Linked DNA regions of Homo sapiens: region 2 is linked to region 1. The links come from fine-mapping of genetic effects on gene expression. A gene starts in region 1. The other region holds a variant in brackets. All regions are shown on one strand. Distances are from middle to middle.

Region 1 (2,935 bases):
GCCTTGAATGCGTAATTGGGATTGACTCCTTGGCTGTTGGAGTAAGCTCCACCTTTCTCATTTTCTAATTCAAACAAGAATTATTATAGTGGGGAAGGCAAAATGGAAGCTTCTGAAACTGCACCCCCACACTCCCACCTTCTTCACTGCTATCCTCTCTCCATCCCTTGATAAGATGGTGAATAAAAAACATTGTATTCGGTGGCAGGGGAGGAGTGAGGAATGACAGAAATTGGGGCTACTCAAAAGGACTTTAAGACTGCAGAAGGTGGTGGTTCATATCATAGCACCATTTAATTCATGAGTCTGATCACTGCAAAATCCAAGTGAATCTTAGAATATTTCTAGCCTAGTGAAAAATCAACTAATAACCCCAATGATGGGCTACTGTGCTTGATGTGTTATCTTTGTTAGTGCAGATTAATACAGTGTCAGGTACATGGTGTTCAGTCAGACCACATTTCACATTCTTTCCTACCTCAATCAGGAAAGATCAGAAACCATTTGCATTTGCATGGAACAGACAATGACACATGTTTACATTTTTTTTTTAATTTTTTGAGTTGGAGTCTCACTCTGTTGCCCAGGCTGGAGTGCAGTGGTGTGATCTCGGCTCACTGCAACCTCCCAGGTTCAAGTGATTCTCCTGCCTCAGCCTCCCGAGAAGCTGGGATTACAGGTGCCCACCACCACACCCAGCTAATTTTTGTAATTTTTAGTAGAGACGGGGTTTTGCCATGTTGGCTAGGATGGTCTCAAACTCCTGACCCCAGGTGATCCTCCCACCTTGGGCTCTCAAAGTACTGGGATTACAGGCATGAGCCACCTGTTACATAGTCCTGTGGCTATGTTAACTCCTACTCTTTATCATAATATAATCAGATGAGATCTAGGCTGTCTGGACACTTGGCACAATATCATGTTATCAGGCAGGATGAACAAGAAGTGGCTAGTATAATGGAGGCCTTGGTAAGACACATTCAACACAGAATATGAGAGTTAAAGTTGGTAATGATTGAGGCAACTTCTAGTAAAGTTTTTAGGGGTCCAGCTTGACCAGGGACATATAAGGAAATCTTTTCCAAAAGACAAATTGCTACATTTTGCCTGTTCTATCAAAATTCTTGTGGGACTCTTTGGCTTATGGTGGCAACATATTGCACATTTAGGCATGTGCTGCAGCCCATATACTGGATGGCATGAAAGGCTCCCTGCTTTGAGTGGAGCCCAGAGCAGGAAAGGGTCTGCAGGAAGGAAGGGCTGTGATATGAGCTGCCCTGATGCTTGGGTCATGTGATTGGTAAACTCCACGGTGCTGGAGGTGTTAGTGAGAGGAAAATATGCAATATAATGTGTATGGTGTGTGTGTATGTGTGTGAGAGAGAGAGTGTGTGTATGTATGTGTGTGGGTGAGCATCATAGCACCAATGTCTGGGGTTGTGAAGAAAGATCATGCCATCTGTAACAGAGACTTATACACCTATTAAAACAGAGTGCCTAATGTGTTACTGGGGCCCCATAGAGACAGAATTCTTGACTATAGGATATCAAGTAACAATGTATCTGGAAGTGTCCATTATGAGCCAGGTTCCGTCAGACCCACAGAGTCATCAAGTCAGGTATGTCCAGCAGAAGTCCATCGTGAGATCAGATTGTGCATCTGGGGTCAAGCCTAAACAAGACCAGAAGTCCTAAGGTAACTGCATGAGCAGGTGGTGCAGATCCCCATGTCACCCACCACTGCAGCACCAGCACCCCTCCTTCAGATCATGCCCCAGACAGTATGTGGGTCCCACGTGACCAGCTAAAGGAGGAGAAAAAACCTGAGCATGTTTAATGTACCAGTCAGCACAGGGTGTGGAGGCAAGTTAAAAATGGGCAGTGGTTTCATGACACTTGGGATGTGGGGGGGACTTGAGGAACTGGTAAGGAAAATCATATCAATGGACAAAGCTCAGAGTCATGCACCTGTTCCCTATTTCATGTGGAGGACACAGTGGCTTGGAATGGGAACATATATATACTCATGGGTGGAAGCGAATCGTCTGAAAAGCTGGTCAGGGACCTGGAAGGAGGACTGAAAAATTGCAGACAAGAATGTTTGGTGGAGAGGAATGTGTGTGAACCTATAGGAGTGGGCAAAATATGTGAAGATTTTTGGCTCTTGTATTCATGAACACTAGAAAGCATCAATCACAGAAGAGGCACTGAACAACAGAGTAGACAAAATGACTAGGCCAGTTGACATTAGGCAGTCTCTGAGCTGATGTGACTGACACATGAACGGAGCAGCCACAGTGCAGAGATAGAAGCCATACATGGGCTCCGTCTCACACCTCAGTACTGACGCCTGTGCAAGTCTAACCTGTCAGCAACAGGGAAAAACACCGCTCCCAATACGACATCTTCAAGGAGGTGATCTTCAATCGTGATTTTCCTTGTGGGAGGGGATCCATGTGCATCCGACATATGTGGCAGCACATTCGACATTTTCTTGAAAAATCCTGGGAATTGTAGTGCCTTCAGTGCCCAGATTACCCTCAATGTTGGGTCATTTCCTGGCTTCAGCCTCATGCCTATTAAGTTGAATGAGCACAGTCGTACAAATTACTCAGGAAAACCAACCAATGAACTAAGGCTTTTTGTTTTGTTTTGTTTTGCTTTTTTGATACGGAGTCTTGCTCTGTTGCCCAGGCTGGAGTGCAGTGGAGTGCAGTGGCACGATCTTGGCTCACTGCAACCTCTGCTTCCTGGGTTCAAGTGATTCTTCTGCCTCAGCCTCCCGAGTAGCTGGGACTACAGGTGCGTTGCACCATGCCTGGCTAATTTTTGTATTTTTAGTAGAGACAGGGTTTCACCATATTGGCCCGGCTGATCTTGAACTCCTGACCTCATGATCTGCCCGCCTGGGCCTCCCAAAGTGCTGGGATTACAG
Region 2 (2,935 bases), 690 kb before region 1:
TCTACTTACACACATATATATCTTTAAAAAATATATATGGCAAGAATAAATACGAATAAATACAGCAATAGAACACAGAAATCTACATTATTTTTTAGTGGAAGAGAGCTCTTAAAAATCTCTTATGGAACTTACCATATGGGAACCTGAGGAAAGAAAAAAACTCCATCTGAATATTCACTCATTATTAAGCAATCCATTGTTTATTCTCTGACTTCTTATTGTTTAGTTCACTGCTTTTTCAGAAAGTAGCCTGATATTGAAGCTTTGTGAAATACTATAAGATATACAATATATATGTCATGCATATATTTAGGAGTACCTAGAAGTAAAACTTAGACAAAAGCAGTTACATATATACATATACACGTTTCTTGTTAAAAATGCAAAATATAAATCAATTCAAAAACAAATAAAGATATACACGCAAACTTATGACAAACATATTAAGAAAGAAGGAACTGAACAAGAGACCAGTAATTCATTCTCTTTCATTACTGGATGAATGTCTCCAGGATGGAAAGGAGGTGACTTGATCAATTTCTAGGATGTAGAACAGCTGTAAAGAGTAGCAAGATTATAGCTCCCACCCTTACAATAAAAAATAGCCAAACAATCTGAAAATTAATTATTTTTCAAGCCCAGTGAAGAACTGAAGGCACAGACCAATAAACGTGCAAAAATTAGTGGAATGACTTGTACCTTCAGGGAGACAGAAGACATGAGCATTTGCTTTTCTGAAATAGATGCAGCTAGACACGAGTAAAGAGTTTAGCTTCAAGGGTTGACAAATTGGTGAAGGTCAAGTGTGGGCTGACAGAATATTATGAATAAACAGAGGAAGCCCACACACTCTTGCATTTTTTTTCCCTCAGAACCCACCTTGGTCAGTCATACAAAAGGAGAGAGGGAGCACTAAGAAAGTGAACGTTCTGGAGGAGACCTGAGGAGAGAAATAGCAGCTGCTATGGATGAAGCACACAACTTGCATGGATCCTGATATGGTTAGACTTTGTGTCCGCACCCAAATATCATCTTGAATTGTAATCCCCAGGTGTTTACAAAGAGACCTGGCAGGAGGTGATTGGATTATGGCAGTGGTTTCTCCCATGCTGTTCTCATGATAGTGAATTGTCACAAGATCTGATGGTTTTATAAATGGTAGTTTTTCCTGTGCTGACACACACTCTCTACATGCCTTTGCTTCTCCTTCACCTTCTGCTATGATTGTAAGTTTCCTGAGGCTTCCCCAG[G/C]AATGCAGAACTGAGTCCATTAAATCTCTTTTCTTTATAAATTACACAGTCTCAAGCAGTTCTTTATAACAGCTTGAGAAGGAATGAATACAGACCTTTTTCCCCTAATTCTACCATGGTAAAAACATCTTAATTTTGGGGGAAGGGGAGAGAGGCATAAACACTGTCATCTTAAGACACTAATTAAGATTCACTGCAGCTGAGAAAAATGAAAGAGGAAAAATAAATTTTAAAGCAGAAAGGAGGAGCAGAAAGACAGACAACATCCAGATCTACAGTCAGGGAATGATAGGAGAATGGAATGGAATGCCTAAGACTAAGGCTTAATGTGAACAACAGAGAAACCTCCCACCTGCTGCCCACCACTGCCAAGCTGGCAATTCTTGAGTAAAACCTAACAATGGATTCTTCTGGTAGAGGACTAGCCGAGGAACAACTCATGCAAAGAATTTTTTCTCTGAAGTACAGAGGAAAGGAGCAACCTAATGTTGTAGGTGGAACAGACATTGTTCCAACTTAATTACAAGGTATTCCTACACCAGCCCCACCTAAAATACATTTTATTACTACGGAGATGTGAAGGTCATGGTACACTGATGGTAACTATAGCAACAGCAAACTTCAACCCAAACCCACATCCCAACTAGATTAGCTCAAAGTCTCGAACTAAAGGCCTATATGATCTACAAGGTGTATTTACTTCCAGGCATAAAAATCACTTACTGCAGTCTCTGTTGTCCTACACAAAGAGTACAGCAGACTTTAACAAAATTGAGTCATACCAAAAAAGCAAGAAGAAACATATGCTCAAGAGACAAAGAAATAATCACAACCATAATCAGATATGACATAGAACTCACAACTGAAAGATAATTTAAAGTAACAATGATTATTATGTTAAAGGAGATATACATGTATGCGTAAATATATAAATAATTGTGTTTATAGTATATGCTTATATATACTATATAAATAAATATAATGAAATAATTATGATTACTATGTGAAGGAAATATATATGTAGAAAGATATAGATATACATTCATATATTTATATATATTTATACTATATATATTTATACTCTCTATATACCCTTATATACAGGTATGGATATGATCCCTATCTTTTATACATATATATAGTATAAAGATATATATCCTTATAATATAGGGATATATATGATTCCTATCATATATATCCCTACATATATGAATGTGTATCTATATCTTTATACATATACATCTCCTTTACATAATAATCATTATTTTATTATGATTATTAAAAGATAGTGATGTTACAATGCAAAATTACACAGGTAATTTAAATAAGGAAAAGTTACAATGCAAATTTACACAGGTAACTTCAACACAGATATGTAAACTATAAAAAAAGACCAAATCAAAATTTTAGAAATAAAAAAACACAAAACAGATTAAAAATGCCCTTTTCAGTACAGTACACACAACACAATTGAGGGAAAAAAATCATTAAAATTGAACTCAGGCCAACAGGTTACTCCAACTAAAACACAAAGGGAAAAAAAAAAGAGTGAAAAAAGTTAGAACAAAGCACCCAAGAGCTGAATAATGATCTATTATATATGTAATTGAAATCCCAGATGAAATGAAGTAGAATAAGGAGAAATACTGGAAAAAATAATGGCCTGTAGCTTCCATAAGTTA

Direction of the effects. Positions count from the first base shown, and alleles are read on the strand shown. Sizes are in standard deviations (SD) of each study's normalised expression.
In carriers of allele C in region 2, the expression in testis of the gene that starts at base 1,631 in region 1 tends to be higher than with G alone (large effect, 0.78 SD a copy in GTEx).

Evidence for each region. PIP is the estimated chance that this variant, and not a neighbour inherited with it, causes the effect. A credible set is the group of variants that fine-mapping cannot tell apart.
Region 2: its variant is the best candidate, but not a certain one, in a credible set for the expression of FABP12 in testis (GTEx, PIP 0.63).

Annotation. Positions count from the first base shown.
Region 1 is chr8:81,532,563-81,535,497 of GRCh38, reverse strand. It overlaps FABP12 (fatty acid binding protein 12), which reads left to right and starts at 1,631. Exons shown (of 5, transcript NM_001105281.6): 1 at 1,631-1,696. All of the region lies in intron 3 of LOC101927118 (a long non-coding RNA gene), which reads right to left.
Region 2 is chr8:82,218,005-82,220,939 of GRCh38, reverse strand. No RefSeq gene overlaps it. Among named protein-coding and RNA genes, the nearest start is that of LINC02839, 59 kb to the right of the region's middle. The variant G/C (reference allele first, on the strand shown) is at 1,254.